4 separate regions of the Homo sapiens genome follow, and regions 2, 3 and 4 are each reported to be linked to region 1. The links are microRNA targets in miRTarBase. Many come from high-throughput screens and were not tested one by one. Region 1 holds a microRNA gene; each other region holds the end of a gene's coding sequence.
The links. Region 1 holds the annotated microRNA hsa-miR-106b-5p (UAAAGUGCUGACAGUGCAGAU, at 3,502-3,522, opposite strand). A microRNA usually pairs through its seed, bases 2 to 8, with sites in the 3' UTR of a target mRNA and lowers its output. Matches are read on the target gene's strand: a 7mer-m8 pairs with bases 2 to 8, a 7mer-A1 pairs with bases 2 to 7 and ends in A, and an 8mer does both.

Region 1 (7,000 bases):
GGAGAAAGGTAGGGGGCACTGACTTCCTGTGCATTGTCCCTCTCTTCCAGGTGTGTGAGATCATCGAGAGCCCCCTCTTTCTGAAGTTGAACCCTATGACCAAGCACACAGATGTGAGTAATACTCCATGCCTACTCTGTCATGATTGTCGCTATACCTTTTACTGTGTGACACTCCTCTATTGGGGAATGCCAGATGCCACTTACCAGCTGTGACTCTGGCTTAGTCATTTAATCTCCAAACTGTGAAAGGAGGTAATCCCTACTTCATTGGTTTCTTGGGAAGATGAGAGGAAATGTGTAAAAGCAGCTAGCCCAAATGTTGGCATATAGTGTTCAGGTTTCTCCGTCTCCTTCACAGCTTCCTGTCAGCGTTTTTGAGTCTGTCATTGATATAATCAATGGAGAGGTAATACCCTACCCTTCAACCCTCAGATCCTGCTCTTGGCCTCTTTCCTGCTTTTGATTCTCCCTTTGTGGGTTACCTTGCCCTGTAGGCCACAATGCTGTTTGCTGAGCTGACCTACACTCTGGCCACAGAGGAAGCGGAACGCATTGGTGTAGACCACGTAGCCCGAATGACAGCAACAGGCAGTGGAGAGAACTCCACTGGTAATGGAGGGGATTCCTTGGAAGTGGGGTTGGAAGGTGTGGCCACATCCCGTCTCAACCTCCTCCTGTCCTCATCCCCTTGCAGTGGCTGAACACCTGATAGCACAGCACAGCGCCATCAAGATGCTGCACAGCCGCGTCAAGCTCATCTTGGAGTACGTCAAGGCCTCTGAAGCGGGTAGGACAGGGGCTTCCCTGGCATTCTTCCTCTCCCTCCTGGGGAAGTGACAGCATCCAAACTAATGTAGTCTCTTTTTGTGCCTTTAGGAGAGGTCCCCTTTAATCATGAGATCCTGCGGGAGGCCTATGCTCTGTGTCACTGTCTCCCGGTGCTCAGCACAGACAAGTTCAAGACAGATTTTTATGATGTGAGTGTAAAACCCGGATGGGGAGGCGGGGCTTATGCTGTCACTTTCACGTGCAGGACTGGGGACTGTTGTTCCCCGGGCATGCCACGAGGGATCCCGAGGAACTGGTCCTTTCTGTTCCCTCCCAGCAATGCAACGACGTGGGGCTCATGGCCTACCTCGGCACCATCACCAAAACGTGCAACACCATGAACCAGTTTGTGAACAAGTTCAATGTCCTCTACGACCGACAAGGCATCGGCAGGAGAATGCGCGGGCTCTTTTTCTGATGAGGGTACTTGAAGGGCTGATGGACAGGGGTCAGGCAACTATCCCAAAGGGGAGGGCACTACACTTCCTTGAGAGAAACCGCTGTCATTAATAAAAGGGGAGCAGCCCCTGAGCACCCCTGCTGGTGGCTCTGTCCTCTGTTAGGCACCACACTGGTTGGTCAACTTGGATGTTCATCGAGGCTCATTCTGGCCTTGCTCAGAAGCCCTTCTGATGCTCTTCAGTGAGGGAGGCACTACCATTTGAAGTGACCCCATGTCAGTCACATGGACTGGTCTTTAGCAAAGTCCAAGGCTGCCTGCTTCCACCTAAGTGGTCTCTGTTCTACACTTTAATGTCACCCTCTACATCATCTTACCTAGCCCACCCAACCTTATAAACATGATAATTGACTACTTTCCTGAGCTAAATTAACTTGTTTTTCACATACGCAAAAAAGAAGGGATAGTAAGCAGATTTTTATTAGAAAGAAGTCCAAGCCTTGATCCTGTGGGCACTGTGAATTACCAGGAGGGAGAGTTTCTCAATGACCGTTTACTACATATTTTGGAGAGGCAGCTAGGAAGTGGTCTAAAGGTTGGGATTGCTGTATGTGATCACTTGTGCTGATTTTCATCACCCGCTAACCAGAGCTTTAGAGTGGGAGTTGGGAACTAAGTAATGACCTGTCTGCTAGAAAAGGGGAAAAACCAAGAGACCCTGCATTTCATACTGGCGCCATATCCCCAGAGCCTGACTTGCACACAGGCAGTATAAGACCAAATAAGGGAGTCGGGGGGCTCAAAAAGTGGAGCCCCATCTTAAGTATCTCCAAACAGCAGGGACCGCTTAGTCCTTGCCGCATCCCCAGTGTCTATACTGGGGGCCTGGCAGGGAGATGCACTTTACTCAGGTAATTTACTGAGTGGATGAAATAGCATAAAAACGAACAGGAATCTAAAAAACGCACAAAACCCTGTTTTAATGGAAGTCAGGCCCAGGCTAGAAGATGACAATCTACAAACACTTTTATTAGCAAAAGGAGTAAGTGCAGCATGGGAGAAAGAGGGGCTCCTCCTTCCCCTCAAAGGCATCACTGCCCCTTCCCAAGGGGCAGGCCAGCAGGGAACAAGAGGACCCCAGGGTTGCAAGCAGGCTGGAATCAGACAAAAGTGATCCGTGTCCGGGAAGCATTGACCTGCCAGACATTGAGCTCCTCATATTCATCCAGAGCCGCCTGGAACTGGGCGGGTGTGAAGCCACGAGATACACAGCGCTGCTCTGCCTCAGAGAACCGGACACTTCGGCCCCCTGAGACCAGTTCACGGACGGTGGCAAATATCACATCTGCTGGTCTCTGAGTCCTGAAGGAAATGAGTGGGTGTGTAAGGTCAGGATACAAACAGGAATGCTCGACATCAACAGAGAACAATGGTGGCCAGTGTTAGAATTGAGGCCAACCTCAGACACATGGCCACAGAAGACAAAGTGACACAGCTTTGTCCTTCACTAAACCACTCACCTAGCTGTCTGCCCCTTGTCTCCTAGAAGAGAGTCCTTTGACATCTCCATTAGCCTGATGGCTTCATTCACATCTTCTTTCTCCACCACATCCACCATTCTCAGACGTGCCTAAGGGGAAGGTAGGGGGGAAAGATGGGAACGGGAGGAGGGCAGTGGAACGAGGTCAGGGGACACCCTTGTTCTGGCTTTAAGGCTGGGCAGCCCATGGGTCGCCTACTCACAAAACAGGAGTGGAATCCCCCCTCCCCCCAGCATCCGCAGTGTTGGGCCGGCACTGTCAGACCGAGACAAGTGCAATGCCCAGGGCAGCGTCCAGCAATTGCCCAAGTCTCCGCCTCTCAACACTGGCCAGTCCCGGAGTTCAGCTGTCCTGTGAGGGAGACCAGACCCTTTTGAACGCCACTGGGCTCCCCAGCATGACAGATGGAGCTTGGGGAGCTCAGCCAAGAAGACAATTGGCAGAGAGAACGTGTCCCGGGGGCTCGGGAAGTGCTAGCTCAGCAGTAGGTTGGGTAATCACACTACCTGCACGAACAGCACTTTGGAGCCCCCAGGACTGAGGTCCAAGACGGGAGGACAGAAAGGAAGGTCTGTAGCACAGGATCTAGGACACATGGAGTGAAACAGACCCCAACCACCCTCTCAGTGAAGGTTAAGAAGTGGGGAAAAGGCCTTTCCCTCCACGGACGCTGTGCGTGCCCTGCTGGAGCAGCAAGTACCCACAGTGCGGTAGCACGGAGAGGACCACTATCTGCACTGTCAGCACTTTAGCCCCGGCAGGGCTGGAGCGGGAGGTGGGGAGGCGGCAATGAGAGCACGGTAAGGAGCTACCCCTTTAAGGGTCAAAACAGATGGCCCTCCAGCAATTTGGGCACTTACCAGAGCAGTGGAAAGGCGCAGGATAGCCAGCAGGGTCCGGGCAGAAGTATAGGTGGCATCCTTACTAGCCCAAGCCTCTCGCCTCATCTCCACGTATGCTGCTGTGATGTAGTCAGCCAGAGACTCTGGCACCATGGGCTGCTTCTCGCGGCACATGGCTATGTAACGCCTGTGGGGGAAGGTTCATGGGGAAGCAGAAGAGGGAGATGGGGAAGGGAGTGAATATGAGCCCATGTTGTTTTCTGTACCAGGGCTCCCCATTTAACATGGTCCCCTCCAAGAATTTTAAGTGGAAAACACAAATTAGTGGGTGATTATTTGCTTGGCTTGAATATCACTGATGGATTTCACCAAACGTATAGCCCCCACCAGTATCCTCCAAGTTATTTCCTATTTTTTTCGGGAAAATGGCCTTTGTAAGACAAATCCGTCTGTCATTAAGAGAGGATCCAGACCCCTCCTCTGAGCGCATGACATGGCAAAACATATATTTTATTTAAAGAGAACTGTTTACAGAATATTTAAAAGGGAGTAAAAACCGGAAAGAACACTGGAGGCTCATGGGAAAATAGCGATAGAGATTATCATCCAGAATGCCTGGGAGCAGGTGTTTTAAACTTTAAATTTTGGAGTATTTGCATATGCATGAGATAGCTTGGGGATGGGACTCCAGTCTAAACATGAAATTCACCTGTATTTCATATACAACTGATACACATAACCTGAAGGTAATTTTATTAAAAATATTTTTGTGGGCCAGGAGCAGTGGTTCATGCCTGTAATCCCAGCACTTTGGGAGGCAGAGGTGGGCATCCTGGCCAACATGGTGAAACTGCTCTCTACTAAAATACAAAAAATTAACCAGGCGTGGTGGCGTGCGCCTGTAATCCCAGCTACTCAGGAGGCTGAGGCAGGAGAATCGCTTGAATCTGGGAGGCAGAGGTTGCAGAGAGCTGAGATCACTACACTCCAGCCTGGGTGACAGAGCAAGACTTCGTCTCAAAAAAAATAAATAGTGTAGGAAACAAAATTTCCTGTGTCCCTATGATATGAAGTGTGGAATTTTCCACTTAAAAGCTGATCTGAGGCTCTGGACATGTCTGTAGCGGGAAGTGGTGGTGTGAAAAACACACACCCTAAGACTAATAAGCACTTTTTCAGGAGGCTCGCACGGCCCACGCCAACGTTTGCCCACCCGCACCCAGCTCTCCTACCTCATGAGCTTCATGTCCAGAGGTTCAAACTGGGAGGGGGGCTGCCGGCTGTGCTGGTGCACATAGGTGATGTGCTGGGCCAACCTGGACAGAGGGAAGGTTAGAAGGAACACCCTTTTTAGGGCTACGCACCCATGTCCTCTTAGGTGTCCCTCCTTTGGCTCTGCCACTTCCTCACAGTGTAGGAGGGACAAGCTTTCCCGGGAAATCCTCATCAGCATTTCAGCCCCAACCCACCATTTCCCTGAGAACCATGGACCAGCCCCTGCTGCAAAGGGGAGGCTCTGGGGTTTCCAGGAGCGTGGAATTTGTTTTCTGATTCACCTCTCCTCCTCCCTACACAGATCATTACAGGGGACCTCTCTTTGGGTGTTGAGCTTCATTCACCGTAGGTCATTGTCTCGGTCGGGCCGGTCCTGAATCAGCCAGAGGAGGTCAAACCGGGAGAGCAGTGCAGCAGGTAGCTGTATGTTCTGCTCCAGGCTGCGGCGAGGGTTGTAGCGCCCGTAGGCAGGGTTGGCGGCAGCCAGGATGGAGCAGCGGGCATTGAGTGTGGTGAGAATGCCGGCCTTGGCAATGGAGATGGTCTGCTGCTCCATGACCTCGTGGATGGCTGTGCGGTCGGCCTCAGCCATCTTGTCGAACTCATCAATGCAGCACACACCCTGGTCAGCCAGCACCAGGGCCCCACCCTCTAAGGTCAGTTCTCCACTCACGGAGTCTCTCAGCACAGCTGCCGTAAGCCCCACTCCTGAGGAGCCCCGGCCTGTTGTGTACTGGCCTGGAAGAGAAGAAATAAGGAACCATGAGAGAGAAAGAACAAGAAAGAGAACAAGCAAAAGACAACAAACGGGCCAGGGAGGCGAGGCCTGCGCTGGGATCATTCCACTCCCTCCACCAGGCCTTCTTGAGATGCCCGAGGATCTGTGGGGCACTGGCAATGTCCCCCTTCCCCTCCCACTGGTTCTCTTCAGAACACAACTGTGGCTCACTGAAACCTTGGCTCCTGGGCTCAAGCCATCCTCCGGCCTCAGCCTCCCAAGTAACTGAGACTATAGGCACTCACTACCACACCCAACCAATTTTTAAAACTTTTTAGTAGAGGCCGGGCGCAGTGGCTAACTCCTCTAATCCCAGCACTTTCGGAGGCCGATAACAAGGCGGGCAGATCACGAGGTCAGGAGTTCGAGACCAGCCTGCCCAACACAGTAAACCCTGTCTCTACTAAAAATACAAAAAGTGGCCAAGTGTGGTGGCACGCGCCTGTAGTCCCAGCTACTCGGGAGGCCGAAGCAGGAGAATTGCTTGAACCTGGGAGGCAGAGGTTGCAGTGAGCCAAGACCATGCCATTGCACTCCAGTCTGGGTGACTGAGACTCCGTCTCAAAAAAAACAAAAAACAAAACAATACCCAAACAACAAAAAAAACTTTTTAGGCCGGGTGCGGTGGCTCACGCCTGTAATCCCAGCACTTTGGGAGGCCGAGGCGGGCGGATCACGAGGTCAGGATATCGAGACCATCTGGCTAACACGGTGAAACCCCGTCTCTATTAAAAATACAAAGAATTAGCCAGGCGTGGTGGCGGGCGCCTGTAGTCCCAGCTACTCGGGAGGCTGAGGCAGGAGAATGGCGTGACCCCAGGAGGTGGAGCTTGCAGTGAACCGAGATAGCGCCACTGCACTCCGGCCTGGGCGAAAGAGCAAGCCTCTATCTCAAAAAAAACAAAAACAAAAACAAAACTTTTTAGTAGACATGGAAGCGGTCTCAAAATCCTCGCCTCAAATGATTCTCCTGCCTCAGCCTCTCAGAGCATTGGGATTACAGGCGTGAGCAAACATGCACCCCTACTTTTTGAATAAACACTGTGGTCCTGTCTGTCACTATATTCACCTCCCGCAAAGCCCAACTACTTACTGCGAGGCGCCAGTCGATCAATGTATGACAGGAGCTGAGACTTGGCCACACCAGGATCCCCCATCAGACAGATGTTGATGTTGCCTGGAGGAAGGGAAGGCAGCCCTGGAATGACTCTTCTCCCAGTGCTTGGCCAACAACAGAGCAATTTTGAGTTCTGCCTACCCCTAACACCCAGCACTATTTCTAAGCCCTCCCTGTGTCCACGAAGGCAAGATGTCCACTCATACTGTGACCTACA
Region 2 (7,162 bases), not on the chromosome of region 1:
TAACCCAGGTGAGTACTGTTGGATAGGATGGGGACAGGGGAGACAGAAACATTCAGGTTTTGGTGATACTTTTGAGGTAGAATCCATGAGACTTGATGATTGAGTGGATGTGATGTCTTAGTCTGTTCTGGCTTCTATAAAAAGTTACCATAAGCCAGGTAGTTTATAAACAACAGAAATTTTTTTCTCATAGTTCTAGAGGCTAGGAAACCCAGATCAAGGTGCTGGCAGATTCATTGTCTGGTGAGGGCCATTTCCACAATGGCACCTTCTTGCTGGGTCCTCACAGGCTCGAGTACAGTGGGCCAATCATAGTTCACTGTAACCTCAACTTCCTGGGCTCAAGCAATCCTCCTGCCTCAGCCTCCCAAGTAGCTAGGACTACAAGCACCAGCCACCACACCGGGCTAAATAAATTTTTTGAAAAGATGGCGTGTCGCTATGTTTCCCAGGCCGGTCTTGAACTCCTGGCTTTAAGCAATTCTCACACCTTGGCCTCCCAAAGCACTGGGATTACAGACGTAAGCCACCACACCCGGCCTGCAGTCTCTTTTATAAGGACACTAATCCCAATCATGAGGGGTCTGCCAAAGTCCCCACCTCCTAATAACATCAGTTTAAGTGTTAGAATTCCAACACATGAATTTTTAGGGTACACAAATATTCAAGCCATAGCAAGAGGAAAGAGGGAGTGTTTGTTGATAGCATGAGCAATTGTATGGATGTGGCCCCACATACTGGAGGCAAACAGATCAGGGGCTAAAAGCATGAGTTAAGGGCATGTGTTTTGATGCCTGAGAGACATCTAAAAGACGACTCCTGTAGGCACCTGAATGTAGGAATCTGGAGTACATAGAAAAGAAATTGGAGCTAGACCTAAAATGAGGTCTTTGTAGCCATGGAAGTGGCTAAGCTCACCTGGGGAGATACCATTTACCAAAGGTAAGCCGAGGGTACATTCCAGCTAAGTAGAAGCATGTTAGAATTTGGCTGCAGAGAATGCCAAAAGCCTAAGAGATTGGTACTGGTTCTAAAGAAAAGACACTCTACCCAGCACAAGTGAGATGTACAAAGTGCCCATTTCAACAAGCCAGAGACACACGTGGTAGTCAGGCCCACAGCTCTGCATTGCCTAAGTGAGATTAGAGCTGGGACGGTGGCCCGGAGCTGCTTCTCCAGTCCTAACGCCTAGAATCATGGGATGGAGATTCGTGTTAGTGCCCGACAGTCACACCCATGATACCCTCCTGCTGATGCGGAGGAAGAGACCTGAGGAGTTCCTCCGCAAACACTCTTACCCGTACTGCTAGATTTACACGGAGATCACCTAGCGATATGCAGTGGATATGGCCAGGCACATGGCCAAACCCCACCACTGGATCTCCACCGTTCACCACAGTCCACTTGCCCCAGGAATGCGCAGGCGCTACCGGAAGCGGGCACCGGAAGTGGCTCGGCTCGTGGCTTCCGGTTCCTCACCAGTGTGCCGCTGTAGCGCAAGTCATCTCGTTGACACTTCCGCTGACCCGTGCAGTTGGTGGCCAAGCTGGAGACCCAGGATCTCCCTGAGGCCGCGCGAGGTCTTCTGGGAGTCCTACTCACCACATCCGCTACTCGGAATCCAAGCTTTAAGTGGCAACCCGTGCCAGGCAGTAGCTGCTCCGTGAAGACAGAGGTCCTTGCCCCTGTACTTCTGTGTACAGCAAAGACGAAAGGAAATTGAGGTCTAGCGCTAGCTTCCCAGAATGACCCAGAATTTTCTGCTGAGTTCCAGGGAGCAAGCGATTTTACTTCCCTTATTAAGTAGCACGAAGTCCTTCACTCTCTGTCTCTAAACCAGAATCCTAACAGTCTTCAAAATTAACCTGATTGCCACCTAAAACCACGTATTTTTTTTAAAAAGTTCACTTCATTGCCATCATCATAAAATAGCATTTAATAGAAGCCAAATTGCACATTAGACGTAATCAATAACTTCAGAGCTTGCAAACTAGAGTGAAGACTGATGAGAATACGTCAAAAAGAGTAAGACCCAAAACATTGAATAAACAGTATAAGTGTATACAATAAATAGAATTCTGAGGTATCCAAAGGAACTGGAGATTACAGCACATTCTTACGTTTACACAGAAGAATATTTATATTGTATTCCCCCCCTACAGACTTAATGCAAAGAGGACTGTCAATTTTAAAAGACAAAACACCTGTACTACTTAGATGGGCCTTGGAAAGATGGGTAATGGTTATCTTTGAATCAGATCAATAGCTCTTCTAAATTACAAAACTAAACCAGATGAATACATACACTTCTAATGTAATGAACATCATTTTGTTAAACAGATGGTCAAAGCAAATACACTTTCCTACTAAAATCCCACAGGGATAACAAGTTTAATGAACATTCAAAATAGACTATTCATATAAACTATAACCTGCTATGTCTCCCTTTGTACACATAGGCAGTAAATTGCAGATTACTTTGATCAAACTCTGCAGTTTCAGATTGTATGACATCTTATGCTGCAGTCACTAGAACATTGCCACTTAATTATATGGAAACTCAGGAGGCAAAGACTCAAAATGGCATTTGCTGTGAAATGTCATTTGAGTTTTAACTCCCTGAATTATTGGGTTAGTCATTTTCTATGTTAAATGAGGAGGTGTCAATAGACTACCACCTGTAGCAACAAAGCTCTAAATAAAACTATTCTGAGTCGACCTCATTCAAAACAACTACATTCCACAATTTCTTAAATTATAAAATGTAAACTGCTGACATCTGAATTCCATTGGAAAAATGCTGTTTTCATCAATGACGACTGTTTAAAAGACTGTTTAACTATTCCAGCAATCATGTTAAGGAACTGTTGGATATACATTTTCATCACTGCATCAACGACAAAAACGGAGAAATTTGTCTGAGTCAATTTATTCAGCACAAAGTTTTCACTCTCATAGTGTGTTGATTTCCATGCTGCAAAATGCAGTTAACCAATCATTCATAGCAATAAACTCTTGCATTTAGTTTTTCATTCCCATATTAACTTTTATCCAGTATTTGTGAATAGCACCTAACATGGAAGGCTAGTATCTGAGTTAATGACAATTTTATGGAATTTATCTCCATCAGTTGACACTGTAAACAGAAGGGTGAAATGCCATCATCATAAAAAGCCTGAAGCTCACCAGCAGATATATCTTTTCCTTCAATTCCCTGGGGGTAAAGCAGCTTGAATTACATCTAGCAAATGTATTTAAGTACAACTGCACAATAAGCACAACTGAAAATATGCCTCTTTCACAGTAACTGACACTTCCGGGGTTTTCATTTTTTTCTGCATACTAATCATTAACAGTATTATACCAAAAAGCCATTTTAGTTCTACCCACACGTATGTTAATGTTTCTGAAAAGGGCTATTTTTTCTAATCTTTTAGGAAGTTTGTCGTAATCTTCCAAAATCTGGAGAAAACTGCAAAAAAAAAAATTAGAGGTTAATTGTGAAGGAAGACTCGTGTGGAAAGGCAAACTTCCATATTAAGGTGCAGAACAGGATGTATGGCACAAATTCTCACTTTCTGCTATATTTTCTAGGAGCCAAAACAAAAATGACAGCATACATCTTTTATATCACCCCCATTCTGTCCAAGTGCCTTCTAAGATATTCCCCTCTACTTCTTTCTGCAGCAACTCTGCTAATCCAGACCTTTCCCAATTTCATCCCCCATCCTGTGACTCATTAGATCTTTGACTGAACTCTTAGGGCCCCTGATATGTGCTGATGAGGCTCCTGCCAGTTTCTCCCACTGAGGGCAGAAGCAGGAGAGCAAGGAGGTGGTGTTCTTGTTATTTAACAAAGGTCATGGTATCTCAGAGTTGCCTAATAAGTAATCTAACTGGAGACTATCTTTCTACACATTTCAAAGCACCTCAGAGAAACCTGGAAGCTGGTGTCCTGTCTCCTAAGAGTGGAGACATCAGAAACAAACAGCCAAAGTCTGACCTTGACATACAGAGCAGCACATTGTCTCAACTGTGGATCTGCAAACAAGAAACAAGACAAGAATGACAAAGAGAGAGAAACTCTCTCTGGGTTAGGGATGTTTTTGTTAGTTTCAGTTTTTCTCTCACCTGAACAGTATCTTCCTGCCTCTACTCAGTAATAAGAGCTTAGCTGAGTAGCCAGCATTTTTTGTATATTTAGTCCTCAATCTGCTGTTCTGTAGGACCACCTTCTGCTACCTTCCATATAATTAGTCCTCAAGAGTCCTTTATCTTTTCTCCCAGCAAAAATTCCCAGCAACAATTCAATTTTAGCAAATATTGTACTTTTATACTGTCTATTTAAATAGAATGAGAGCATTCTTCCATCCTAATCAAAACCCATGTAAATATTGTTTTGCTGATAGGCATACAATCGACTTTAATGAGAAATTGTATATGAATCTATATTTACAACATTCTGTGGTTCTTTAACATTAATAACCATACCATTTAATAATATTTTGCTCCAGTATTTATCTATAATAGCAATATCTAAAGATCTATATATTATCAAGTATTTTGGTTAAAATCTAACAATTTTCTATATGCATTTTCTTTGGAGATGGAGAGGAAATGTTATGGGTGTTTTTTAAAAAACCAAAACCCAGTTAAGACCTTCAGTATTGTACTCTGCCAAGTGTGAAATCTCTCATCTGATTAGAGGGACAAGAATTCAAACCTGAAGTCCTGGAGAGTCTTCTGCTGCTTTGTAACTGTATATGTTAGTCAGGCTTTGGGTACAGCACAAAGGGAATGAAGGGGTTCCAGGATGCAAGCACACAGAATCGCCTCCATGAGGACCACCCTCACCTATCTCAGCTCCCCTTTCCCTGGCTGCCTGCAGTGCTACTACGTGGTGCAAATGCCAACAAATGCCGCAGTCTTGCAGACTGCATGGCCTTTGGAGTCAGAGAAACCCAAGCTTAATGTCAGTTTCACCACAATGTGATTTGTGTGCTGGGCAAAGAACTGACTTTACCCTCTGAGGACTTCAGTTTCCTCGTTTATGAAACAAAGATTTTTTTTCTCTGTCACAGATTCTGAAGATTAAATTACATAATATATCTAAAGTAGCTAGCATGCTCACTGAGAAACAATTACAATTATTCATAGTAAGACAGGTAATGTGCTTCAGTAGCAATTTGGAGGCAAATCTTAGAAAAGAGCAAGTACTTCTCCCCCTCCCCAAGTCAAGTCCAGCCTCCAGAAAAGGGCTGCAGTTAGACTTCCAAAACTCCTTGCAAACAATTGGGTCCTAAATGCCAGTATGTGCCCCTGGCATCAGAACCATGACAGAGAACTCCGGATACTAATGGCCATCAAAATATAAACTAGTCTACCCATTTGGGAACTTTTACAGGGCAGAAAAAAACTTCTGAACGCCTGTGGGAATTCACATGTAGAACAGCAATCTTATACAAGTATTACATTCAAATAGTTATAGCAAAAAAAAGTATAAAACATATAAAAGCATTTACTTTCCTAGATATGTCTGCAGAACTGGCAAAATATAAATAAATTCTCCTCCTTCTAAAAGTCAGAAACTACGTAAACAAAATTAAAATAACTTTAGCAAGAGCCTTCATTTTAATGAAAATTGAATTTAAACAAAAGTTGTGTATCTTCTTCTGGCTCACAGTTGTACAGTAACTGAGTTCAAATCCTGGGTTCATTCACTAGTTTAGTGACACGGATTTTGCATCCCTACTTATAAAATGGAAATGATACTGCCTAAATCACGGTTGTGCTGAGAATTAAGTATTACATGGGAATGTGTGTAAAGTGCTTAGCACATTGCCTGGGACATATACAGTAACTGCTTCCCACCATACAGATACTGAAAAGCCCAATCACTAATAACAATTTGTTATATTTACTTTACGTGGTGTTTTTTATGTGAGTTCGCTTATGAGTAATGAGATGCAAATTCGACTTGAAAGTTTTCCCACACACGGTACATTTAAAAGGTTCCGCTAGCATGTGGCTCTTCTGGTGGCATGCAAGTTCTGAGTCCAAAGCAAAACTTTCCTCGCATGTTTTGCACTTATGGGGCCTTTCCTCTGTATGAATGTTCTGATGGGAAATAAGCTCAGAGAAACAAGGAAAGGTCATGTCACAGTCAGGACACTGTAAGGGCTTGAATTTTGAGAATGAGAAGAAATTGTCCCCATCATCGCTGCAGCGTTCAGAGTCCTCGTCGTGGCTCTTCTCGGAAAGGGCAGGATATAAGGACTGCCTGAAGCTCTTCATGCACTTAGTGTGCTGGTACTGGGGGCCTGATACGAATGTTTCCTCAGGCAAAGCAAGATTTGGTTTCTCATTAAAATGTTTATCACAGTTAGTAGATTCGTAGGTGTTTTCAGCACTGTGGCTTTTCTGATGCTGTGCCAATCCTGGGAGCCACATAAAACCTCTACCACATATGCTACATGTATAGGGCTTCTCCTTTACGTGGCTATTCATGTGTCGGGATAGATGAGAGTGCTGGCGAAAGCTGGCACTGCACTTGGCACACTTATAAGGTTTCTCACCAGTATGGATTCTCCTGTGTGTCCTCAGGTTGGCTCTATGATTGAAGATCTTTCCACAGTCACCACATTTATGTTTTTTCTCTCCTGAATGAATTTTCTGATGCAAAACTAGGTATGAATGATCGCTGAAGTTTTGGTCACACTCAGGACATTTGTACACATTTTTGGCTCCTTCCCAGGGAGAATCAAGAATTTCAGAAAGTGTGTTGGTTCCTAAATATTCAGAGAGTTCTACTAATGGGGTGTGGTTTTCAATGGTAACTAAAAGGCTGATGACCCTTCTCTTGTAAGTGGGAGTTCCACTTAATATTTTCGCTTCAGGGTTTCCAACTCCATCCTCAGAGGATTTTTCTGGGTAAGGGACAAGGGGTGCAGCAATGGGGTACTTTTCTAAGGCAAGCTCGTCAAGTTCCATAGACTCTAGGCTTAACTGCTGATTAATCTCAGGCTTGCCTTCCTCTCCTGTTGATAAAAACAAAAGAAAGCAAAACATAGACAATATCTTCAAGGGATACTGGGGAAAAAGTAAGCTAAGGTAGTTACAAACAGGACCAGGAAACCTTAGAAGGGTTATTCTATAACCCAGA
Region 3 (7,162 bases), not on the chromosome of region 1:
ATTTTTGGTAGAGATAGGGTTTCGCCATGTTGGCCAGGCTGGTCTTGAACTCCTGAGCTCAAGTGATCCACCTGCCTCTGCCTCCCAAAGTGCTGGGATTATAGGTGTAAGCCACTGTGCCTGGTCTGGGACATGCTCTTATTGCAGGACAATTGACACATGTTGAGAAGTGCTGAAAAACCAAATAAAGCAGGGAAGGGCCTAGATAAGGAGAGGAGGGACTGTGATTAATGATGTGGTTTGGGAAGGCATCTCACCTCTTCAGACAGAGTAAGCCACACAGGCACATGGGGAGTGTCCAGAGAGAACAGCAGTGCGAGGCAGAGTGACCAGAAGGGACAGTGATAAATGAGGTCAGAGAGGGTGGCAGGACCTGTATCGTCAAGGATCTTACAGGCCATGGGAGGGATTGAGCTTCTCTGAGTTTTGCAAGAAGCCATTGCCAAGGCTGTGTGTTCACAATCAGACTGGTTAATTGGGTTGTTATGTGGACCTTGGGTTGTTAGGAAGTCAGTGGCAAGAGCCTGTCAGGAGGCTCCCACAGTCCAAGCAAGAGGTCTAGGTGATTCAGACCACAGTGATGATAGGAGTGATGGCGTAGTTTGGGATACATTTTTAAGTGGAGCTTACTAGTAAATATTAGGATTTAGACTGGTATATGCTCACTTTAGATCATGAAACCTGAAGTGAGAAGAATTCTACTTAACAAGACTGCTGGAAACTTTTAAAGCATTTTAAGCGTGTGCTCAATAAGCAGGGTAGTTATGTAGTGGCCTTTTGGATCAATGGTTTGGGAACGTGGTGGAGAAAAGGAGGGTGATAATACGGTCTGATGCCTATGTGATCCCCCAGTAGCCTACATATGTGCCTAACGAAGACCTGCCTGTCACCAGGTACTGCCTAGGTTCTAAGCCCCAGACTGTGGCTGACATCTTCAGCAGCCAAGCTCAGTGTTTTAGACTAGGAACAGAATGCTCCTGTGATGCAGCTTCTTTTGGAGGTAGGGCTTTAAAAGAGAAGAAAGCAAAGACTTGGGAAGCAACAGAATGGGGAGGAGGAGGTTAAGAACAAGGAAGAAGCGCTCTGGGCATGGGGTGGCCCTGGGCTGCAGCACCCTGCCTGCCCCTCTCCTGTGGCCGCTGGGGAAAGCTGCTTTCCTCTAATGGGAGAAGCCTGATGTTCAGCTGCAGTTTTTCTTTTTATGTTTAAGTGATTCTGTAAGCTTAAAATTCTTTTCTTTTTTCCTTTCAGGCACATAGCAGTATTTCCCTGCAAGATAAAAATCCTCCCTCAGTACATTTTTAATTCTCGAGATCCGATAGTGATGGGGGTGACGGTGGAAGCAGGTCAGGTGAAACAGGGGACACCCATGTGTGTCCCAAGCAAAAATGTAAGTTCTAGTTGTACATTCTGTGGGTCATTTCTTAAAGCACTAAATGAGTGTCCAAGAGTCGTACCAACACAGCTTTGTGCCTGTAGTTCACAGTACTGTGCTGTGTATTTAGTGTGGTCTCCACCTTCTTAACAAATGTTTCAGTGTTTTTACCTCAGTAGGAAGAAAATGTGGTAACTTTAAAACAAGCAGAGCCTGTCACCTTCTGTTGTGCTTCAGTATTGGTAAATATCAGTGCTCCATAGTCAGTGTTGACTCAGTGCTGATCTCAGTGCTTCAGTTAATTGGGGCTCCAAGGCACTTTACATTATTGCCTTTTATTTTATTTTGAAAGGTTTCAAGCCTGTGGAAAAGTTTAAAAACTAGTATAATGAACACTCATGTTTACCTTCCCTTTCTGTCAGCATACCTAAGAAAAATTAATAATATTTCAACAATATCCTATAATTTGCAGCCCTCAACATTATTTCACCAGTTATTCCAAAGATGTTTTGGTAACTCTCCCCACCAATCTGGCCCAGTGCCCTGCAAGCTGCATTGCACTGGGGCTTGTTTTGTGGCTGAGCCTCAGTCAAGAACAGTCCTCCATTCTTTTTGAAGTGTCCCTGTTGTTTTGCAAATCCCTCCTCCATTTGGATTTATCTGTTTCTCTCCCTCCCAACTAGACACAGGTTAGAATTATTGGAAAGACACTCATGCAGTTTCCCTGTGTGCCTGCCTCTTGCATGACCCAGCCTGTCTGACTGCTGCTGATGCTCTGATTTCCTGGGGAAAGTGCTAGACGCCAACCATCTCCATTAGAAACTTGCCCCTTTATAATTACTCTGTAATCTGTCTGGTACCTGGAGTTCCTAATGGATATCCTGTTTCTCAACAGCCTTTATCCCAGTGCCTTTAGTACCCACTGGCAAGCGTTGCCTAAGTCAACTATTACGTAGATGGTTGCAAAATTGTGGATATACCTGTCCCCCCATTTCTTACAAAGAACCTCTTCCCACTGACCTTTTTATTGAGTCATAGACTCAGTGGGTTTTTTTTTTTTTAATATAATCCATTACCTTTATTCTTTTGATACTCAGATTTTCTATTGTGGTCAGTAGGAGCTCAACTGGCTCCTGTATCCTTGACACACAGCAGTCTGAGCATCATCTTCCTTTCTGGTTGAGATGTTCCAGCCTCATCTAGTACTTTCCCTGGCCCAAACCTGGTTCTTGTAATGGGCAATGGCACTTAGAAGTTGTCATTGCTTTTCTACCATTTCAGTGGACTAAGCCTGGACATTTATTTGTGTTACTTTCTATGTGGCTTTGGCCTCCTAAACCAACCAGAGCTCTCCCTGTTTTCACTCTTACTCTCCTGAATCTTTTTCTCCACAAAGGAGTCAGGGTTTTTTGCCCCAAACTCTGAGATCACATCACTCATCTGCTCACAGGCCATCATTCTTAAAATTTCAGGATTGGTCCTCACTCTGACTTCATTCCCATCAGCCACTTCAAGCTCATTCCTGACTCAGACCCTTTGTGCCTGCTGATCCCTCCTATTACGGCACCTGTCACGTGAAATGGTAGAGCAAAAATAGGAAATGACATTGGGTCAACAGGGCACTTGGAATGTTTTGCAAAGCACATTATCTCCTGTCATTCTTACAACCATCATGAAGGGAATAGGGTGTTGGTGGTGCCAGCCTAGTTTACCAAAATGTTACACCGTGAGTGATGAAAGGATCGCACTGCCATGACTTTTAAAACAGGCTTTTGCTCTAGTTCTTACTTCAGCTATCCAGCCATGGCGCCTGTGATTGGCATGAATTCTTCTGCATGCATTTTAATTTGTTCTTATTTTATAGTTTGTTGACATCGGAATAGTAACAAGTATTGAAATAAACCATAAACAAGTGGATGTTGCAAAAAAAGGACAAGAAGTTTGTGTAAAAATAGAACCTATCCCTGGTGAGTCACCCAAAATGTTTGGAAGACATTTTGAAGCTACAGATATTCTTGTTAGTAAGGTAAGTATTTCAGCAAAAGTGGCACACTTTAAGCAACAGGGAATCACTCTTCTTGGGTCACCTGTACCTGTAGCTCCTTGGGCTTCAGTTTGATTGTAGAATCTGATGGGACTGGATCCCCCATTAGGGCTTGACCTCTAGCTGGGCCTTGTCTGTTGAGGAAGTTGCTCTATCAGGAAAGCAGCACCAACAGAGAAAGCTAGGACTTTTAGGTCCCCTCGTGCCTGACATGCAAACCAGATGTGATTTTGGAATTCTACTCCCTTAGGCAGGCAAGCCCTGTTTTTTATTTCTGCTTAAGCTTTTTAGTACAGTGAGAGCGGGCATCTGGGGCCACAGCTTTCTTTGGCACGTTTGTTATGTTCTGTTTACCCTGTTTGTGCCTCGGGCATTGCAGATCAGCCGGCAGTCCATTGATGCACTCAAAGACTGGTTCAGAGATGAAATGCAGAAGAGTGACTGGCAGCTTATTGTGGAGCTGAAGAAAGTATTTGAAATCATCTAATTTTTTCACATGGAGCAGGAACTGGAGTAAATGCAATACTGTGTTGTAATATCCCAACAAAAATCAGACAAAAAATGGAACAGACGTATTTGGACACTGATGGACTTAAGTATGGAAGGAAGAAAAATAGGTGTATAAAATGTTTTCCATGAGAAACCAAGAAACTTACACTGGTTTGACAGTGGTCAGTTACATGTCCCCACAGTTCCAATGTGCCTGTTCACTCACCTCTCCCTTCCCCAACCCTTCTCTACTTGGCTGCTGTTTTAAAGTTTGCCCTTCCCCAAATTTGGATTTTTATTACAGATCTAAAGCTCTTTCGATTTTATACTGATTAAATCAGTACTGCAGTATTTGATTAACCAAGCTTCTGCAGATTTTGTGATTCTTGGGACTTTTTTGACGTAAGAAATACTTCTTTATTTATGCATATTCTTCCCACAGTGATTTTTCCAGCATTCTTCTGCCATATGCCTTTAGGGCTTTTATAAAATAGAAAATTAGGCATTCTGATATTTCTTTAGCTGCTTTGTGTGAAACCATGGTGTAAAAGCACAGCTGGCTGCTTTTTACTGCTTGTGTAGTCACGAGTCCATTGTAATCATCACAATTCTAAACCAAACTACCAATAAAGAAAACAGACATCCACCAGTAAGCAAGCTCTGTTAGGCTTCCATGTTAGTGTAGCTTCTCTCCCACAAGTTGTCCTCCTAGGACAAGAATTATCTTACAAACTAAACTATCATCACACTACCTTGTATGCCAGCACCTGGTAACAGTAGAGATTTTTATACATTAATCTTGATCTGTTTTAATCTTGATCTGTTTTAGTAGAGATTTTTATACATTAATCTTGATCTGTTTTAATCTTGATCTGTTTTGTCCTAGAAAATTCCATCATACACACATTTCCTGATATTTGGGCTTAGTGCTTCTAAATTGTTGCAGACACAAAACTTAATGATTCATTCGTAGTAGTAATCTGTAGCTAGTTTTAGGGTTTTGCTGAAGTCAGTGTGGGGTGTTTGTTTGAGGAAAAAGTTCCAAATATCCACTAGCATAGAATTTTAAACTATTTTTATTTTAAAGTTATGGCATAACATATAACATAAAAATATTTTATATACGTTTGAAAAATCTATACCGTTCTTTTTTATCATCAAAGTTTCTCAATGGCCAGTAGAAGCAAAAAGACAACACCACCTCTGATCTACGGGACATAATGTTCCCAGGAAAAAAATCTTCAAGTGGGTGTGAGGGTGTTTCTAATTCAAAATATGTAGATTTCTCCGCATGGAAGAAGTAGTAAAGATTTTCTTAACATGCTCCTGTGTTCATGCTTGGAGACAAGAATAAGATGGTTTAGAAGCTTTACCCTTTCTTGGAACAAGTAGAATCCCGGTCTGAGACCTCTCAGGAATTTCAGAGCTTAGCAGTCTGGCCTGGAGGTTTTTCAGCCTTTTAGTATAATAAACAGTAGTTGCTTCCTAGAGTTGAGTTTTTAAGGATTCACAAAAAGGAGCCTGTACAAAATATACATACAGTTCTTTATTAAACAACTGTAAACACTTCACTGTAAAAATCCATAAAACTTTATAAACAAACATTTTGTAAATAGAATCTATGCTACAGTAAAATAATTAACACAATTATTTACATGCAATACTGACAAATTTGGCACTTTTTGAAAAGAAATGTACAAAACACTTGCTTTAAAAGAAATTTAAAATTATAAAAACTCCGAGCATTACTATCATGCACTTTGCAAATACCTCACAAGCACTTATGGCACAGCTATCAGAGAGCATCAGGCTCTCTGGTAATATTTATGTAACTTTTAATGTGCTTCCATAAGTTTGTTGTAAAACCACCTGGACATTGTCAAGAATAAAGTCAAATGCCATATTCCAAACCGATTCCACCGATTGCTGCATCAGCCTAAAGGTGGGGAGAGAAGAAATGTCATTAGGAATTAGGAAAGGTCCTTAAGACTAATTATTCCTTTTTATATATAAAAATTGACTTTGGCAAAAAAAAAAAAAAGTCCTGGCCAGGTGCGGTGTGGCTCATGCCTGTAATCCCAGCACTTTGGGAGGCCGAGGAGGGCGGATCACCTGAGGTCAGGAGTTTGAGACCAGCCTGGCCAACATGGTAAAACCCCGTCTCTACAAAAAATAGAAAAATTAGGTGGGCATGGTGGCACATGCCTATAATCCCAGCTACCCGGGAGGCTGAGGCAGGAGAGTCACTGGAACCCAGGAGGCAGAGGCTGCAGTAAGCCAAGATCCTGCCACTGCACTCCAGCCTGGGCGACAGAGTGAGACTCCATCTCAAAAAAAATAAAATCCTAGAACACTCAAATTTTTTTTTATTTTGTTTTGAGACAAGCTGTCGATCAGGCTGGAGCCATGCAGTGGTGCAATCATGGTTCACCGCAGCCTCCACCTCCCAAGTAACTGGGACCACAGGTGGGCACCACCACCCCCCCAGATTATTTATTTTTTGTATTTTTCAGTAGAGATGGGGTTATGCCATTTTGGCCAGGCTGGTCTCAAACGATCCACCCACCCCAGCCTCCCGAAGTGAAGTACAGGCGTGAGCCACTGTGCCCAGCCCACTTCCTATGGTTTTTTAATCACATGTAAGACCTTGAGGGCAACATATTTGGAACCTTATTTGCTACTTAGTCAACATGGCAAAATAAAGGATATCACTTTCTCATTAACCCTAATGAGTACAGTTTCCCAGAAAGTTTAAAACAACTCAGTACACCCTCAGCCATTGTGACATGCCATTTTTTCCCATTTGATAAAAGTGATGAATTACTACCTTTTCATGTATTTTATAACTAGATCCAGTTTTTCCAAATCTTTTTCTTCTATTAGATCAGTACAGTATTTCACAACTTGGAGAATGTCTTCTTCCATTGGATCTAGGAAGGGGGAAAAACTTCAAATGAGGACCAGTCTTTTTGAAGGAGAAAGTCAGAGATCTGCATGGATAAAGGAAAACTGCATTTCTACAACTATGTCACTAACAGCTATCAAAGGAATGGGCTTTGTTACTTTTCAAAGCAAGTCCCAGAATTTAAAAGATTTGGGGGTAGCTGCTTTAAGCTTATCAGAGTTAGAGAAATGGGTTAAATCTGCATAGTTTAGTCTGTTTATGTTCTCAAATCATGAGACGACTACATCTCAGCCTTGGGCCATCTAACACAGGCCAAGCCAACCTGAAATTGTAGTTATCCATTCTCTGA
Region 4 (7,132 bases), not on the chromosome of region 1:
TATAGGGGTATACTCTGATTTCATTTGCATTAATCTGCAAATTCATACAGTGGTCAGTGTTATTTATACCTAGAATGGCTTTTGAATGTACTGAAACTTCTAGTTACAGAGTTGTAATCATTATTTGTGCCCTTAATTTAAGGATTCTCAAGAATTTGCATAAATGGACACCCAATACAATAGAATATGTTTCTTATCGTTATTCATCATGATAAGTGCTTATGTAAACATGTGAATCGTGAAACAAAATAAATGATCAGATGATTACTAGAATTTGATAGTATAACCACCTGGGTTATATAACTTTTAATGTCTCTACCAATTATATACAATATCAGTCTTTACATCACCATCTGGAATGTTAAAAAAAAAAAAAAAGCCCAACTGCTTTATGTTTGGGGTGGAGTAACCAAAGTAAATAACCACTTACAGTAATGTGTGTTAAAATTTATATTCAATAATTATAAATTTATGCTTACATCATTAAATCTATCTTTAATGTCATTACCACTTTCAATCCAAAGTCCAGAATACACATTTAAAGTATTTTTAGTCAATAACTGTTGTTAACTATTGAACTTAATGGAGTTAAATCTGTTTGTCCAAAGACTACATAGGCCCAGAAGAGATCCACAGTAATGGTCAGTTGAAATATCTTATTGGGTTCATTAATGCATGAATGGCTGACATTTCAGTTTTTTTTATGTTTTTATTTTTTATTTTTTGTTAAGCTAGCAGTGTTATCTTCATCTTATACAATTTCTTTATTCATTGTGTTGCATTTTTCATGTTGCACCCTTAAATTCATATGTATAACATGTCATGCAAAAAACAACTTTTAGAAAAAAAAATTTTATACACGTTTATGTATCAGAAGATGATGGTGAGTAGTACTGGATTAGTCATTGTCAGTCATACCTTAAATTTCCACAACTCTTCTTGTAAGGCTGGGTTTTTAAAATCAACATTTTAAATATTGATATAATGTTTTATAATGTTCCGGGCTTTCTTTAATTCTCTGTTTTTCTTCTCCTTACAGTTTGTAGATAAAGTTGGAGAAAGCAACAATATGGTATAACAACAAGTGAATTTGAAGACTCATTTAAAATATTGTGTTATTTATAAAGTCATTTGAAGAATATTCAGCACAAAATTAAATTACATGAAATAGCTTGTAATGTTCTTTACAGGAGTTTAAAACGTATAGCCTACAAAGTACCAGCAGCAAATTAGCAAAGAAGCAGTGAAAACAGGCTTCTACTCAAGTGAACTAAGAAGAAGTCAGCAAGCAAACTGAGAGAGGTGAAATCCATGTTAATGATGCTTAAGAAACTCTTGAAGGCTATTTGTGTTGTTTTTCCACAATGTGCGAAACTCAGCCATCCTTAGAGAACTGTGGTGCCTGTTTCTTTTCTTTTTATTTTGAAGGCTCAGGAGCATCCATAGGCATTTGCTTTTTAGAAATGTCCACTGCAATGGCAAAAATATTTCCAGTTGCACTGTATCTCTGGAAGTGATGCATGAATTCGATTGGATTGTGTCATTTTAAAGTATTAAAACCAAGGAAACCCCAATTTTGATGTATGGATTACTTTTTTTTGTAAACATGGTTAAAATAAAACTTTTGTGGTTCTTCTGAATCTTAATATTTCAAAGCCAGGTGAAAATCTGAACTAGATATTCTTTGTTGGAATATGCAAAGGTCATTCTTTACTAACTTTTAGTTACTAAATTATAGCTAAGTTTTGTCAGCAGCATACTCCGGAAAGTCTCATACTTCTTGGGAGTCTGCCCTCCTAAGTATCTGTCTATATCATTCATTACGTGTAAGTATTTAACAAAAAAGCATTCTTGACCATGAATGAAGTAGTTTGTTTCATAGCTTGTCTCATTGAATAGTATTATTGAAGATACTAAATGATGCAAACCAAATGGATTTTTTCCATGTCATGATGTAATTTTTCTTTCTTCTTTCTTTTTTTTAAATTTTAGCAGTGGCTTATTATTTGTTTTTCATAAATTAAAATAACTTTTGATAATGTTTACTTTAAGACATGTAACATGTTAAAAGGTTAAACTTATGGCTATTTTTAAAGGGCTATTCATTTAATCTGAGTTTTCCCTTATTTTCAGCTTTTTCCTAGCATATAATAGTCATTAAGCATGACATATCCTTCATATGATCACTCATCTTGAGTTAATTAGAAAATACCTGAGTTCACGTGCTAAAGTCATTTCACTGTAATAAACTGACTGTGGTTTCTTAAGAACATGACACTAAAAAAAAAGTGTTTTTTTTCCACCGTTGCTGATTATTAGACAGTAGGAAATAGCTGTTTTCTTTAGTTTTACAAGATGTGACAGCTTTAGTGGTAGATGTAGGGAAACATTTCAACAGCCATAGTACTATTTGTTTTACCACTGATTGCACTGTTTTGTTTTTTTAACAGTTGCAAAGCTTTTTAATGCATAAAAGTATAATTGAAATCTGTGGTATTTATTTACAAACATGTCTACAAAAATAGATTACAGCTTATTTTATTTTTAGTTAAATCTCTTAATACACAGAGAACTCCCAATCTTGCTCATCTAAATAAGGAAAGACTTGGTGTATAGTGTGATGGTTTAGTCTTAAGGATTAAGACATTTTTGGTACTTGCATTTGACTTACGATGTATCTGTGAAAATGGGATGATATTGACAAATGGAGACTCCTACCTCAATAGTTAATGGAATAATAAGAGGCTACTGTTGTGTCTAATGTTCTTCAAAAAAGTAATATCCTCACTTGGAGAGTGTCAAATACATACTTTGAGGATTGACTTTATATAAGGTGCCCTGTAGAACTCTGTTACACATATTTTTGACCCATATTATTTACAATGTCTTGATAATTCTACCTTTTTAGAGCAAGAATAGTATCTGCTAATGTAAGGGACATCTGTATTTAACTCCTTTGTAGACATGAATTTCTATCAAAATGTTCTTTGCACTGTAACAGAGATTCCTTTTTTCAATAATCTTAATTCAAAAGCATTATTAGACTTGAAAGGGTTTGATAATCTCCCAGTCCTTAGTAAAGATTGAGAGAGGCTGGAGCAGTTTTCAGTTTTAAATGAGTCTGCAGTTAATATCAAATGTGAGTTTGGGACTGCCTGGCAACATTTATATTTCTTATTCAGAACCCTTGATGAGACTATTTTTAAACATACTAGTCTGCTGATAGAAAGCACTATACATCCTATTGTTTCTTTCTTTCCAAAATCAGCCTTCTGTCTGTAACAAAAATGTACTTTATAGAGATGGAGGAAAAGGTCTAATACTACATAGCCTTAAGTGTTTCTGTCATTGTTCAAGTGTATTTTCTGTAACAGAAACATATTTGGAATGTTTTTCTTTTCCCCTTATAAATTGTAATTCCTGAAATACTGCTGCTTTAAAAAGTCCCACTGTCAGATTATATTATCTAACAATTGAATATTGTAAATATACTTGTCTTACCTCTCAATAAAAGGGTACTTTTCTATTAATTGGTGGTCAAGTATATCTGTGTTATGAAGTTCTAAAAGCTAATTTAGCATTGCAAAATAACCTCATTTTTAAAAAATTAGCCTTATATGCAGTGTTCTATTTATCAAATGATCTTCACATCTTTCATTTCCAAATTGTTGAAATGTACTAATGAATACAAATAGACTTCAAGTAAGCAAAAATGTTCTTAATTTTGAAAACTGTAAAATAAAGTCACTTACCTTGGGCAATATGCTATTTTTTAAAAATCAGACTCCCAGTTTGTATATTATGTTATTCAATAGACATTTTCTGAGTACCCCTTGAATACTAAAAGTCCTGTGTTGAATGTGGGAGACCCAGGAGAACAAGATATGTGCCATCTGCTCATTAAGTGCTTAGAATGTTAACATTGCTTTTAAATTCTTAGCCGTATTTCCACATAACTTGTCCTGACTTACACTGCAAACAAATGGTGGTAGAAGAATTTGCAGTCGAAACACCCCAACCTCTTATTTTTCTCCCAGTCAAGAGTTACTAGAACTATTCAACCTTCAGCTGTGTTGAATAGTTTTAGTAACTCTTGACTGGGAGAAAAGCTGTGTGATTGGTTCGCATTTTCAAAAGATGTCTGGAGGAAAAAAAATAATACCAGCTTTAACTCTGGGAGGTTTGTTTTGAGATGTAATTTCTTTTGCAAGTCTGTATATGTATTCAACTTAATGTAGCGTATGTTTTTGGTTTCTTTGTGGCAGGGGGAAGAGAATTGTTTTTAATGTAGGCCTAGGGATTTAGAACTGTCACTGCTATTTGTGTTGTCTGGAAGCCTGCCACCAAATCTGTATTGCCACAGGCAGTTGGGGTAGTTTTCTGAAAGCTGCTATGATTGCTACCATTAATTGCAAAGTTTAAAAAGCGGTGAGGGAATTTAGAAATTAGAGGAGAAATGCTTATATATTTTTTCTCAGGATGGAAAGGATCTTAAGTTTTTCTCACCTAAATAAGACCACAACACCTACATTGTTTTAACTGTAAATTTTATTAAGGCCGAAAAAAAACACTGGCCAAGTCTACCACTTAACATACCCAGTAAGTATTTGTTGAATTCACTAATTAAGCTGCAAATCCAGACTATTGTTGGGTAAACGGGAAGTCTTGAATCTGTTATTAAATATCCAGCATATTTCTCTAATCTTGACCTGAGCCAAAAGGCCCCAACCTCAGTTCTTCTGTTACCTGTATCCATGTAGGAGATTGGACACTAGCAGCATGCCCAAAATTCTTCATTGACTAACATGCGTTTCCATGACCTTAGCTTTACTCAATTCTCAAGGCCTGATTAAAATGTCACTGCTGTCATATCTTTCCTTACCAGCTAGGCCCAAACAGTTGCTCCTTCCCTGTCCTCTCATACAACTTTCCACTTGCTTTGTATTGATTTGGTTATGGAAAAGATTCTTGAGGTTCGAAATCTCCTCTTTGATTTGTATCTCCAGTTCCTGGCATTTAGTGGGTGCCCAGTAAGTGGTTTAATGAGTGAAAGTTCATTCTTCCAGCTCTTCTGGTGCTGGCCCCACTGATCACTTCTTTTTTTTGTTTGTTCGTTTTTGTTTTTTGAGACTTGCTCTTGTCACCCAGGCTGGAGTGCAGTGGCATGATCTTGGCTCACTGCAGCCTTCACCTTCTGGGTTCAAGTGATTCTCCCGCCTCAGCCTCCTGAGTAGCTGGGATTACAGGCACCCGCCACCACACCTGGCTAATTTTTGTATTTCTAGTAGAGATGGGGTTTTGCCATGTTAGCCAGGCTGGTCCCGAACTCCTGACCTCGTGATCTGCCCACCTCGGCCTCCCAAAGTGCTGGGATTACAGGCTTGAGCCACCATGCCCGGCCTGATCACTTCTAATATATTGAAATCAGCCTCTATCAGCCGTAAAGTTAAATCTAATGATCTGGCCCCCGCTGAAGTCCACCTTTCTACTTCACATTCCTTAGGACTTTACTGTACCCAGTAGCTTGTCAACGGAGAGAGGGATCATAGATAAAAGAAAGACCATGCCTCCAGATTGGCTGCCCTTCTTCACAAAAAAGGGAGGCCGCTGGGGAAACCAGAAGCTACTCCTAAAGTTTTGAGGCTGGTGTGAATCACTGATACTCAGTTTTCCTTTCTTTCCAATAGGAAATGACGAGTTTCTTGGGTTTTGTTGGTCACTGGAGCTGGTATTACAAAGTAAAATTATCCCAAAGAGAAAATGAAATTTATTCCTTAAGTGACAAAAGCCAGAAATAATACCCTATGACAAGAGGGATCACTTGCACGATGGTCTTTTACATATATGAATTAATACTGATAATAATGGGTAATTGAATCCCTGAAGAAGACTCGTCTGATGTGATGTGATCCCATGAGGTGACTATGAGTTCTGTGGCGGTATAAAGACCAGTCTTGGTGCTAAAACACTAACTCTACCATTTAGTGTCATGTCAAGTCAAACTCTATGAGTATGCTCTTAAGTGAAATTCAGGATCTACTGCATGAATTTGGTGTGAAAAATGAATGTAACAATGGGTGTCAAAGGGCTTTCTCAAATTTAAAGTGTTGTGAAAATAACATGTGTTATTGTCCTGAGAGTATTTCTGGCCCAGTGATATAGATTAGAAGTAGGACAACTAACTATCCCATCTTCCTATTGATCACACCTGGCAACAGCTGGTATTCAACCTAATTCACATTGTAGGATTATGGGATCATTCTTCACATTTCTGAGCTACCAGTGTTTATATGGCTCAACATTTCCAAAATGTTGAGTATTAGTGTTTTGTTGTTTGCATCTTGATCCAAGACCTTTTTGCTATATTTGTCCTCTGTCTTTGTGCTGCTCCTACGTAGCATACACCATTAGCAGCCATGTCTTATGAATTATCCTGTAGTAATGGTGGGTGTATATTAATTCATATGCACTATTCTGTCATTTTGGAAATGAATGGTAAAACATTTTAATCCAGAAGTTAGTATGAAATTGGTGAACTTGAGTCTTCCCTGCTTCACTTTTATCTACCCCAACTCCCCCTAAACAGTACTTATCTTAACTCTCCTCAGAAAACCAATATCTTCATATTTTCTCCTCCTCCCTATCTGCAGTTCTGGAGAAAGGATCTGAAACAGTCTGTAAACAAAGAATTGCAATATTATCTGCTTCAGGGTGTGAGCTCATCGGGAATTAACGTGTTAAGTAAAAGGAAACCCAGGTTAAGACATTGGCCAATTAATGGGAAGTTTTATTTTGGATAGCAGGCCTTCTTAATGCCCCTAAAGCCCCTCCTAAAACTGGTAACCCTTTGGGGAAATGACTTCTTTCATCTGATGATGAGACAGCTGGCCTAAGGGGCTGAATACAAGCCCCACAGAAGATTGAACCCATATCTTTATTCATGTTATCCAACCCAAATTCTCTCTATGCTGTCATCAAAAAGTAATTTAGGCATTTTGTACCATAATAGCCATATTGTCCAGATAACCTTATCCAAGATAGCAGCTGTTTTCCTTGTGAACACAATAATCACTGACCTTGAAAGAATGTCATTTAAACAGTGACAGGTGATCACTGGTTAAATAGGTTCTGG

Region 2: the mRNA of ZNF597 is a reported target of hsa-miR-106b-5p. Seed matches in the 3' UTR shown: 8mer at 5,823-5,830.
Region 3: miRTarBase lists REV1 as a target of hsa-miR-106b-5p. The part of its 3' UTR that is shown has no 7-base or 8-base seed match.
Region 4: miRTarBase lists GOLT1B as a target of hsa-miR-106b-5p. The part of its 3' UTR that is shown has no 7-base or 8-base seed match.

Annotation. Positions count from the first base shown.
Region 1 is chr7:100,090,542-100,097,541 of GRCh38, forward strand. MIR106B (microRNA 106b) reads right to left here and starts at 3,533; the gene lies at 3,452-3,533. COPS6 (COP9 signalosome subunit 6) reads left to right here. Exons shown (of 10, transcript NM_006833.5): 5 at 51-113; 6 at 361-408; 7 at 497-611; 8 at 697-789; 9 at 879-979; 10 at 1,108-1,646. The coding sequence ends at 1,248. MCM7 (minichromosome maintenance complex component 7) reads right to left here. Exons shown (of 15, transcript NM_005916.5): 10 at 6,760-6,843; 11 at 5,233-5,626; 12 at 4,846-4,929; 13 at 3,632-3,800; 14 at 2,751-2,860; 15 at 2,187-2,592. The coding sequence ends at 2,391. MIR25 (microRNA 25) reads right to left here and starts at 3,102; the gene lies at 3,019-3,102. It also overlaps MIR93. RefSeq lists enhancers at 1-25, 885-1,179, 4,960-5,460.
Region 2 is chr16:3,430,502-3,437,663 of GRCh38, forward strand. It overlaps ZNF597 (zinc finger protein 597), which reads right to left. Exons shown (of 4, transcript NM_152457.3): 4 at 1,913-7,037. The coding sequence ends at 5,923. Among named protein-coding and RNA genes, the nearest start is that of ZNF597, 9.4 kb to the right of the region's middle. RefSeq lists enhancers at 950-1,451, 1,218-1,387 and a silencer at 1,648-1,697.
Region 3 is chr2:99,395,509-99,402,670 of GRCh38, forward strand. REV1 (REV1 DNA directed polymerase) reads right to left here. Exons shown (of 23, transcript NM_016316.4): 21 at 7,136-7,162; 22 at 6,736-6,838; 23 at 4,969-5,844. The coding sequence ends at 5,733. EIF5B (eukaryotic translation initiation factor 5B) reads left to right here. Exons shown (of 24, transcript NM_015904.4): 22 at 1,252-1,390; 23 at 3,240-3,401; 24 at 3,799-5,818. The coding sequence ends at 3,906. Among named protein-coding and RNA genes, the nearest start is that of EIF5B, 62 kb to the left of the region's middle.
Region 4 is chr12:21,514,630-21,521,761 of GRCh38, forward strand. GOLT1B (golgi transport 1B) reads left to right here. Exons shown (of 5, transcript NM_016072.5): 5 at 1,040-3,779. The coding sequence ends at 1,078. Among named protein-coding and RNA genes, the nearest start is that of SPX, 8.1 kb to the right of the region's middle.